Linked DNA regions of Homo sapiens. The gene in region 2 interacts genetically with the main gene of each other region. Each region holds a gene or a part of one and is shown on either strand. Other genes may lie near its edges.

Region 1 (3,651 bases), on a different chromosome or scaffold from region 2:
ACAAAAATATTAGCCGCGTATGGTGGCGCGCAGCTGTAGTCCCAGCTACTCGGGAGGCTGAGGCAGAAGAATCGCTTGAACGCAGGAGGCGGAGACTGCAGTGAGCCAAGATGGCGCCACTGCACCCCAGCCTGTGCAACAGAGCTAGACTCCGTCTCAAAAAAAAAAAAAAAAAAAAGAAAAATATATGTAATAAAAAAAGAATATTCATGTTCCTAGAAAGAGTCACCACAATTACCATCAGCACATTTGTATCTAGTGAATTAGCTACATTTAGAGTTGGAAGGATCTTTAGGGGTCATCTAATCCAATTCCACATAGTTTAGGTGAGAAAAATAGAAACTGACTGGTTAAGTGTCTTGCCCACGGTCACAAGAAAAAGATCAGAGAAAGGACTAGAGTCCAAGTCTCTTGAGTTCCAGTCCAGGGCTCTTTCCATTTAGTTACAAAATTACTTAGTTATAAAAACTCTCCTTTATAGGAAAAAAAAAATCTTCAAAAAAATATACCTTGAAGTTCAGCCTTGCTCCAAGAAATAAATTATATACACAAACACACATACATACACACAAATACACACATATACGTACCAAGCCCCAAATCATTAAAAATAAGATTCATCACATCATAAGCAGTAAAAAACAGATAAATATTTGGTGGAAATAAAAGCACCTCAGGAAATAAACCCTAAAGCACACAACATTCCTAAAGTATACACATATTTAATAAACTGAGAACCCTAAATCTGTATTATATAAAGTATGCATTTACAACAGAAAATTTAGGGAATTCATGATTTAGGCTAAGCTTACTAATAATTGCAAGACAGCTGCATTCCCCAGTTCCCCATTCCCTACCACACCCAAACTTGTAAGTTTACCTCTTTAATTATTTTGGCCCCTTTTTTGTCATTGAATTCCAACTGAGCCAAAGCCTGGTCAATAGACATTCCTCGTATCTAGAATTAAAGGGTGAGAGACAAAAGAAAATAAATTAGTTTACAAAGTCAATGTTTCCTTTTCAATGAAAGTCTTACATAATTTGAGTAACTTCTAAAAACAGTGAATTGAACCCAAATAAAAGAGAAGAAAACAAGTTTGAGAGGAGACACTATTCTCTTTCAGTCAAAATGAAACAAACATTTTAACCATAAAACTGAGATTATAATAGTTTCAATAACATTAAAAGACAGCAAACATGACAGAGAGACCACAGGTTGGTAACAACCACACTAGGCATTCAAGGCATCTCCTTCTCCTATAGGATAAATGTATTACATGTATATTTGCTGCTTCAGTCTCCCCTCATCTATAAATTTCATTTCCTAGGGAAAAAAACTTAAAAGCAACAGTTTTAAAACAGGTTGAATCAAGTTTACAGATAAATAGGTGGGTTTCCTGGATTCTCTGGTTATAGCCAAACTCCTGATGCCTTTTAGTATCTATCTATCCAATGTGATTTAGTTTCTCAGAAAAAGGTGAAAATTAAGGAAAATCATACATCTCTGAACAATCATTCTTTTGACAACCTACCAATTATATCACATTCCTCACAAATCTTTTTTATTTTTCAAATCCTGGGGTGAGGGGTGGGGAGGGGAACTCATAGCTTCTTTCCTAAATTATTAATTATATGGTAATAGTCATTGCAGCTTACCAATTTTGCCAAATACCACATCTTGTCTTTGCTATATTTTATTTGTCTTCGACAGTGGTAGATTTCCTTACAAATTGGAAAAAAAAGGACAGAAAGAAAATGTTAGCAGGTTTACCACAAAATGACAATAACATATACTGTTATTTAAGTTTTTACTTTCTAGGCCTAAAGAAAATGCTGCCATAAGAAATAGAAACATTACTAAGAATTTAGAGATTATTTTCCCCTACACAAAGTTGTATTTTTCCAAAGTCTCACTATGTTAAAAGATTACTACGGGAGAAATAGAAACTATACAATGGCTGGTTTGTGTCAACACTTGCAACATTTCTATCCAAAGAAATCCTAAAAGATTTAAATGAAAGTATCTTTAAAACATTTAGCTGATTAAAAGAACAAAAGAAAAAGTACAAGAAAACGTTCATTATTAATGAGGAGAAAAATGGCAAAATGGACAAGTGTTTTCATGTGAAAAGCCAATATTCTAGGTGTTTGGCCAACAGCATAGGTTCTAGAATCAGACTGCCTGCCTGGATTTGAATCCTAACTCTGCCATTTACTAGCTACATAATCTTGAGCAAGCTACTTAACCTCTCTCTAATTTTCCTCTTCTGTAAAATAAATAAAACGATAATTAGAGGGAAATAAAGTAACCTATTTCAAGAAACCATTTTATAGTGCTTGGCACATGGTAACTTCTCAGTAAATGTTAGCTTTTATTATCTTCTATTTAAAGTTGTAGGTATGTCCTGTTTAATTACAATGTATAGTTCAAAAAGCACTTTTCACTCATTATTTCATTTAGTCTAACTCTATGAGTTGAGGGATGAAACATTTTACATATAAACTGAAAATCAGAGAAATCAAGTGACTTGTCTAAGACCAGAGGTTTGCAAGAGACAAAGTTGGAATTCAAAGAACAGAGAAGTATGATACACCTGATACAATGTCTAGCACATCTACTTTCAAAAGTTCCTCTATTGACTCTAAAACCCACTTTCTTTCCACTACTATACCAAACTGCCATTTAAAAAAAAATTAGAAAACATGTGTTATGGAAAACTATAGCAAGGAGGTCTCAAAACTTTCTAACATTCTGACTCCTGCTGGAAATTTTCAAATGCCTTAGAAAGAGCAGTTTTCTCAAGTGGCCATCTTTTAATATGTGGCAGATTTCAGTTGCAATAGAAGCAGACAGCCTGAAACTATAGCAATAGCCTAATTACATTTTCAGCAATAAAGTTTCTTGGGGAGACAGGGAGAGGAAAGAACTATCATGACTGATAATAATAATCTGCAAAAATTAATCCACTCAATGAAATCTTTCATATAGAAGAGACCCTTGGCCGGGAGCAGTGGCTCAGCCTGTAATCCCAGCACTTTGGGAGGCCGAGGCGGCCGGATCACAAGGTCAGGAGATCGAGACCATCCTGTGAATGGTGAAACCCCGTCTCTACTAAAAATACAAAAAAAAAAAATTAGCCGGGCATGGTGGCCGGCGCCTGTGGTCCCAGCTACCCGGGAGGCTGAGGCGGGAGAATGCCATGAACCCGGGAGGTGGAGCTTGTAGTGAGCTGAGATTGCGCCACTGCACTCCAGCCTGGGCGACAGAGCGAGACTCCGTCTCAAAAAAATAAAAATAAAAAAGAAGAGACCCTTTAATTTGTGCATTCTTGTGGTGGGATAATTTTAAACCTTAATTTTGTATGATTACCCTCAAATTTTACACATATAAACAATGGTAATCCTGACCAGAGGATGGCAAAAAGGAAGAAGTGTTTACAAGAAAGGCAAAAGTTAATCATCCTCTTCCAAAACTGAAAAAAAACCTCAGCATTTACTTTGGGCAGGTGAAATGTCTAAGGGCACTTTCTAAAGATAAACGAGACAAAGTCTCAGTACGTATCAAGCAAATAAAGTAACAAAGGTGGAGGTCAGAAGACCTAGTTATATATCTCTGCCATTAACTGACCTATACAGCAAATTAGATAAAGT
Region 2 (3,751 bases):
GTAGGAGAATCGCTTGAACCCGGGAAACGGAGGTTGCAGTGAGCCGAGGTCACGCCACTGCACTCCAGCCTGGGCGATAGAGCAAGACTCTGACTCAAAAAAAGGTAGGTAGATGACCTTTGGCAAGTTATGTGTATTAAGTACATTTTCAACTTATGAGTGGTATATCAGCACATCACCCCATTGTAAGTTGAGGAGCATCTGTACTCTATCCTAACCTTTATCATAAACCCATCTAGTGACTGCTTATTTACATGTCTATATTACCCACTAAATTTTCTGTGTACTGACATCGGGTTTTGTTCACAGCTATATTCCCCAGGGGCTAAGCACTGTCTGGCACATAAAAGCATTCATGAGTATTTGTTGATAGAATAGGTGAATGTAATCCTCTTTTTTTCTTTTGCTTGTTGTTGTTTTTAATAGACGGAGTGTTGTTCTGTTGCCCAGGCTGGAGTGCAGTGGCACAATCAGTGCTCACTGTAGCCTCAAACTCCTGGGCTCAAGCAAGCCTCCTACCTCCACCTTCTGAGTAGGTGGGGCCACAGGCCTGTGCTACCTGCTACCACTCCCAGCAGAATAAGTGAATGTAATATTCATCACAACAAATGAAGTATTATTTTTATGAGAACACTGAAACTCACTGAAATGATCTGTTCAAACAGATCAATCTAGAATCTTACTCTTTCATCTAGAAAGAGTAAGCTGACAATTGTACAACTGCACCCCAAATTGTGTTTGTTTGTTTCTTTCCTGAGACAGGGTCTCACTCTGTTGCTCTGGCTGGAGGGCAGTGGCAGGATCATGGCTCATTGCAGTCTCGACCTCCCAGGGCTCAGGTGATCCTCCCACCTCAGCCTTCCAAGTAGCTGGGACTACAGGGGCACCACCACGCAGGGGTAACTCTTTGTATTTTTGGGTAGAGACTGGGTTTTGCCATGTTACGCAGGCTGGTCTTGAACTCCTGGGCTCAAGCAATCCGCCTGCCTCAGCCTCCCACAATGCTGGGATTACAGCCATGAACCACCGGGGCCCAAATGCACTCCAAGTTTTTTACCCCCAGAACTCTCACTTCTTGGTGGGGGTTTGCGGGAAGCTTACCTGGGAACTAATGGCATACTTCAGGTAGGACAAGATGAGAGGATTGGGGGATGGTCCAATCATGGCCTGCTCTAGTAACGCATCTGCAAGAGGAATAGCAAAACACAACTGAGTGATTACAACTTCTCTGGGTTTATCCCTCCCATCTTTCTTTCCCAGTTCACTTGAGACCTGCCAGGTTGAGAATATCCCAGGTGGCTCCTTTAGGAAAGAATTTCTTCATGTTGATTGCCCATTGGTAGTCACTCCAGCGCTCCTTCCAGGCTTGCAAAATGGCTTGCTTCAGGTTGACCACCTTCATTATTTCACTCTGAGCAGGTGGCAGCGGTGGCGGCCAGCTTTGAGGTGAAAGAAATGGAGCTAAAGAAAAGGACATGAGGTTCTAAGGAGAACCGGGGAAGGCAGAATTAAATAGAAAGGAGAAGATGCGGGAAGATTTAAGCGAGACAGAGGAATTTGAAAGAAAAAGAGCTAAAGGGATAAAGTAAGATCCTGTCAGACTCTCTCCTCCTGAACCGCCCTTCCTTAAACTGGGGCACTAAGAAAGTATCGGCCGAGCGCAGTGGCTCGCACCTGTAATCCCAGCACTTCGGGAGGCAGAGGCGGGCGAATCACCGGAGGTCAGGAGTTCGAGACTAGCCTGACCAACATGGAGAAACCTCGTCTCCACTAAAAATACAAAATTAGCCGGGCTTGGTGGTGCATGCCTGTAATCCCAGCTACTCGGGAGGCTGAGGCAGTAGAATCGCTTGAACCCGGGAGGCGGAGGTTGTTGGGGTGAGCCGAGATCGCACCATTGCACTCCAGCCTGGGCAACAAGAGCAAAACTCCGTCTCTCAAATAAATGAATAAAGAAGTATCAAAGGGACTAATAGATTAAACAGGGCATCAAGGAGTTAAGGCAGTCCTGGTTGCCTAATTACGCCCTTAGCTCTAAAAGCGTCCCTTGGCCACCACCATTCCAAGTCCAGATTTGCTCCCTCATTTCCTCCACCTTCTCCAGCCCTGTAACTATACCTCCCAATTTCCTTTTCATCCACCACCTCCCCAAATTTAAGCCTACCGCACAATCCAGTTCTAGGTGGTAGGCATCGCCATTTTGGCACTTGTCAAGAAGCTCACTTTCTATTGGCTGGGAGTAACAAACGCCAACCAATAGAAATGCAGCAAGGAACGCCCCGCTGTCTTCTGGGAATGGTAGTTCCTTGGACTGAAACCGTATTTGTCTGCGCCGGCGAGGAAACTAAGGGACTCGTCTAGTCGGCCCGCATTGTTCTTCTCCTTTAAGGGAGGACATCCAGGAGCTGAGGCACTACAGAGACTCAGGGACTCGAGGGAGCTCGAAAGGCCGCTCACAACCCGGCGTCGCCCACGACGTCACTGTCGACCGGGCTTCTCCATCATATTCCGACACCCTTTCATTCGTTAGCCCCTAGTTAGTAGGTGCGGCAAGGGTGTGGCGTGGGGGCAAGGGTGTGGCGTTCAGCAATAAGGTCTTTCTCCTTTCCTGGGCTCTTTCTGTTCTCCTAAGCCCCTGGAGCTACCAGAGCTATTCTCATTTCCACAACTATATTCTAAAAGCGACACCGAGGTGCCTTAGTTGCACACATATCACCGTCCCCGAATCTTACAGTCCTATCAGAATCTCCAGGCCCTCCATACAGCTTGGATACAAGGGAAAGTAAAGAGGAAACTAAGGTGAAGGTGATCAAAATCAAAGGAATTCTGAGAAACTGTCACAACTAAGAGGGCTAAGGAGACCTGATGACTAAATGTAATGTGGTTTTCTGAATGCGATCATGGAAGAGAAAAAGAATACTGGGTAAAAACTAAGGAAATCTAAATAAAGGGTGGACTTTAATTAATAATAATGTATCAATATTAGTTCATTAGTTGTTACAAATGCATAATACTAATGCTAAGATGTTAATAAAAAGAGAAATTGGGTGCAGAATATGTGGGGACCCTCTATTACCTTCCATTTTTTTCCTGTAAATTAAAAACTTGTTTTTTTAAGTTTCTTGTTGTTGTTGTTGTTGTTGTTGTTTAAATCTTGCTTATCCCAAAGATCCATATATAAATTATGCCCAGGGCTTTGGCCATAGCCTTTCCTTCCCCCAGTGAGAAACCCGAAAGCAAATGTTACCCACCTCTGGAGGCTCCAATGTCTGAGCCTTCTTATGCATAGCCCTCATCCCTCCCCATGCTATGGACTGGTCATCCCTAACATTTACAACCAGGAATAAGAGTAAATTACTCGGGAGGCTGAGAAAGGAGGATCACTTGAGCTCGGGAGTTCAAATCCAGCCTGGGCAACATAATGAGACTCTCAGCTCTACCAAAATACATAAATAAATAAACATGGAGGCCTTTAGCCAGGGCCCAATATCCTAGTTCACAAGTTCAAGCTCAATCTGTATTCCTCAACAAAGATTCTTTTTTTTTTTTTTTTTGAGATGGAGGCTTGCTCTGTTGCCCAGGCTGGAGTGCAATGGCGCAGTCTCAGCTCACTGCAACCTCTGCCTCCCAGGTTTAAGCAATTCTCCTGCCTCAGCCTCCCAAGTAGCTGGGATTACAGGCGTGTGCCACCACATCCGACTAATTTTTGTATTTTTAGTAGAGACAGGGTTTCGCCATGTCGGCCAGGGTG
Region 3 (3,651 bases), on a different chromosome or scaffold from region 2:
TCCTGTTATATTCCAACTCACTCGCCAGACCTGAGAATTATGATTATCGAACTGAGCCACTATATGGATTTCAAACTTTGTTGGCCCACCAGAGGAAGTCAGTTCTTTCCTGTTAATAAAAAACATTTTCTGAGGCATTCCAAACAAAGTTTTAAAACATATATATATACACACACATATATATATACACACGTAAAATTCTAAATTAATACAAGTGGTCTCGCCACCACATCACTTTATAATAATGTGCACATCTGCCCAAACCCCACACCTTGGCCCTTGAGCTGGGCCAATGTCATTTTCATTTAACTCGCCAAGACCTGGAGTGATCCCAGCACATAAATGATACTCAGTGACTGTTTCATGGAAGAAAGAAACAACAAAACAGGATGATTTTATTCTCCCACACAAGGCAGAAGAATAAAATAGATGACAATAATTAATTTAAAAAGGCAGGGCAAGGCCAGGTGCAGTTGCTCACACCTGTAATCGCAGCACTTTGGGAGGCCAAGGTGGACAGATCACTTGAGGCCAGGAGTTCAAGACCAGCCTGGCCAACATGGCGAAACCCCATCCCTACTAAAAATACAAAATAAAAAATTAGCCAGGCATGGTGGCGGGCGCCTGTAGTCCCAGCTACTCAGGAGGCTGAGGCATGAGAATTGCTTGAACCTGGGAGGTGGAGGTTGCAGTGAGCCAAGATCAAGCCACTGCCCTCCAGCCTGGGCAACGGAGTGAGACCTTGCCTCAAAAAAAAAAAAAAAAAAAAAAAAAAATGGGCAGGGCAGCAAGTAGGAAAGAATGAAAGAATGGAAAGAAAAGAACTGAAATTCACAATTCAAAATTAAAGTTAAATATGTTATTCACAAGACTGTCTCAATACTAATTTAGTTTTCCCTAAATAGACTGCCACTTGTCATTAAATATTTATAGATTATCAGTTATATTTGGAGAATTGTTAGTTTCAGCCTAAATAAAGCACAGTTAAGAGAATATAAATCTGCTCTTGACTCAATTCCCCTTTCCAAAAAGACATATATTTATATATAAAATGTTCATTAAATAATCCATTCTTCAAAAATGACATTAATTTAAAAGTAACTGTAGGTGTTGGCCGGGCTGGTCTCCAGCTCCTAACCGCGAGTGATCCGCCAGCCTCGGCCTCCCGAGGTGCCGGGATGGCAGACGGAGTTGCATTCACTCAGTGCTCAATGGTGCCCAGGCTGGAGTGCAGTGGCGTGATCTCGGCTCGCTACAACCTCCACCTCCCAGCTGCCTGCCTTGGCCCCCCAAAGTGCCGAGATTGCAGCCTCTGCCCGGCCGCCACCCCGTCTGGGAAGTGAGGAGCGTCTCTGCCTGGCCACCCATCGTCTGGGATGTGAGGAGCCTCTCTGCCTGGCTGCCCAGTCTGGAAAGTGAGGAGCGTCTCTGCCCGGCCGCCATCCCATCTAGGAAGTGAGGAGCGTCTCTGCCCGGCCGCCCATCATCTGAGATGTGGGGAGCATCTCTGCCCGGCCGCCCTGTCTGAGAAGTGAGGAGACCCTCTGCCTGGCAACCGCCCCGTCTGAGAAGTGAGAAGCCCCTCCGCCCGGCAGCCACACCGTCTGAGAAGTGAGGAGCCCCTCCGCCCGGCAGCCACCCCGTCTGGGAAGTGAGGAGCATCTCCGCCCGGCAGCCACCCCGTCCGGGAGGGAGGTGGGGGTCAGCCCCCCGCCCGGCCAGCCGCCCCGTCCGGAAGGGAGGTGGGGGGGGTCAGCCCCCCGCCCGGCCAGCCGCCCCGTCCGGAAGGGAAGTGGGGGGGTCAGCCCCCCGCCCGGCCAGCCGCCCCGTCCGGGAGGTGAGGGGCGCCTCTGCCCGGCCGCCCCTACTGGGAAGTGAGGAGCCCCTCTGCCCGGCCAGCCGCCCCGTCCGGGAGGGAAGTGGGGGGTGTCAGCCCCCCGCCCTGCCAGCCACCCTGTCTGGGAGGTGAGGGGCGCCTCTGCCCGGCCGCCCCTACTGGGAAGAGAGGAGCCCCTCTGCCCGGCCAGCTGCCCCGTCCGGGAGGGAGGTGGGGGGGTCAGCCCCCCGCCCGGCCAGCCGCCCCGTCCGGGAGGGAGGTGGGGGGGTCAGCCCCCCGCCCGGCCAGCCGCCCCGTCCGGGAGGGAGGTTGGGGGATCAGCCCCCCGCCCGGCCAGCCGCCCCGTCCGGGAGGGAGGTTGGGGGGTCAGCCCCCCGCCCGGCCAGCCGCCCCGTCCGGGAGGGAGGTGGGGGGGTCAGCCCCCCGCCCTGCCAGCCGCCCTGTCCGGGAGGTGAGGGGCGCCTCTGCCCGGCCGCCCCTACTGGGAAGTGAGGAGCCCCTCTGCCCGGCCAGCCGCCCCGACCGGGAGGGAGGTGGGGGGGCCAGCCGCCCCGTCCGGGAGGGAGGTGGGGGGGTCAGCCCCCCGCCCGGCCAGCCGCCCCATCCGGGAGGTGAGGGGTGCCTCTGCCCGGCCGCCCCTACTGGGAAGTGAGGAGCCCCTCTGCCCGGACAGCCGCCCTGTCCGGGAGGGAGGTGGGGGGGGGTCAGCCCCCCGCCCGGCCAGCCGCCCCGTCCAGGAGGGAGGTGGGGGGGTCAGCCGCCCGTCCGGGAGGGAGGTGGGGGGGTCAGCCCCGCGCCCGGCCAGCCGCCCCGTCCGGGAGGTGAGGGGCACCTCTGCCCGGCCGCCCCTACTGGGAAGTGAGGAGCCCCTCTGCCCGGCCAGCCGCCCCGTCCGCGAAGGAGGTGGGGGGGTCAGCCCCCCGCCCGGCCAGCCGCCCCATTCGGGAGGTGAGGGGTGCCTCTGCCCGGCCGCCCCTACTGGGAAGTGAGGAGCCCCTCTGCCCGGACAGCCGCCCCGTCCGGGAGGGAGGTGGGGGGGTCAGCCCCCCGCCCGGCCAGCCGCCCCGTCCGGGAGGGAGGTGGGGGGGTCAGCCCCCCGCCCAGCCAGCCACCCCGTCCGGGAGGTGAGGGGCGCCTCTGCCCGGCCGCCCCTACTGGGAAGTGAGGAGCCCCTCTGCCCAGCCACCACCCCGTCTGGGAGGTGTACTCAACAGCTCATTGAGAACAGGCCATGATGACAATGGTGGTTTTGTGGAATAGAAAGCGGGGAAAGGTGGGGAAAAGATTGAGAAATCGGATGGTTGCCGTGTCTGTGTAGAAAGAAGTAGACATGGGAGACTTTTCATTTTGTTCTATACTAAGAAAAATTCTTCTGCCTTGGGATCCTGTTGATCTGTGACCTTACCCCCAACCCTGTGCTCTCTGAAACATGTGCTGTGTCCACTCAGGGTTGAATGGATTAAGGGTGGTGCAAGATGTGCTTTGTTAAACAGATGCTTGAAGGCAGCATGCTCGTTAAGAGTCATCGCCACTCCCTAATCTCAAGTACCCAGGGACACAAACACTGCAGAAGGCCGCAGGGTCCTCTGCCTAGGAAAACCAGAGACCTTTGTTCACTTGTTTATCTGCTGACCTTCCCTCCACTATTGTCCTATGACCCTGCCAAATCCCCCTCTGGGAGAAACACCCAAGAATGATCAATAAAAAAAAAAAGAAAGAAAAAAAAGTAACTGTAAAAGACCATTTTTAAAAAACATTTCAAAGTTTACATTTTTAAGTAAAACTTCCAGAGCAGAAATATAAACCAAATCATA

What was found.
Region 1: changes in MED24 (region 2) and MRPL22 together harm fitness more than expected from each alone (negative genetic interaction), as found in Homo sapiens cells (one large-scale study listed by BioGRID).
Region 3: changes in MED24 (region 2) and SEH1L together harm fitness more than expected from each alone (negative genetic interaction), as found in Homo sapiens cells (one large-scale study listed by BioGRID).

The regions. Positions count from the first base shown.
Region 1 is NC_000005.10:154,954,442-154,958,092, reverse strand, and holds part of MRPL22 (large ribosomal subunit protein uL22m), read right to left. Parts: intron 1,723-3,651; coding exon 1,657-1,722; intron 959-1,656; coding exon 881-958; intron 1-880.
Region 2 is NC_000017.11:40,052,197-40,055,947, forward strand, and holds the start of MED24 (mediator of RNA polymerase II transcription subunit 24), read right to left. Parts: upstream 2,213-3,751; 5' UTR 2,165-2,212; intron 1,462-2,164; exon of another isoform or gene 1,440-1,461; 5' UTR 1,403-1,439; coding exon 1,273-1,402; intron 1,185-1,272; coding exon 1,102-1,184; intron 1-1,101. UniProt on the Homo sapiens protein: Component of the Mediator complex, a coactivator involved in the regulated transcription of nearly all RNA polymerase II-dependent genes.
Region 3 is NC_000018.10:12,978,976-12,982,626, reverse strand, and holds part of SEH1L (nucleoporin SEH1), read right to left. Parts: intron 110-3,651; coding exon 1-109. UniProt on the Homo sapiens protein: Component of the Nup107-160 subcomplex of the nuclear pore complex (NPC). The Nup107-160 subcomplex is required for the assembly of a functional NPC.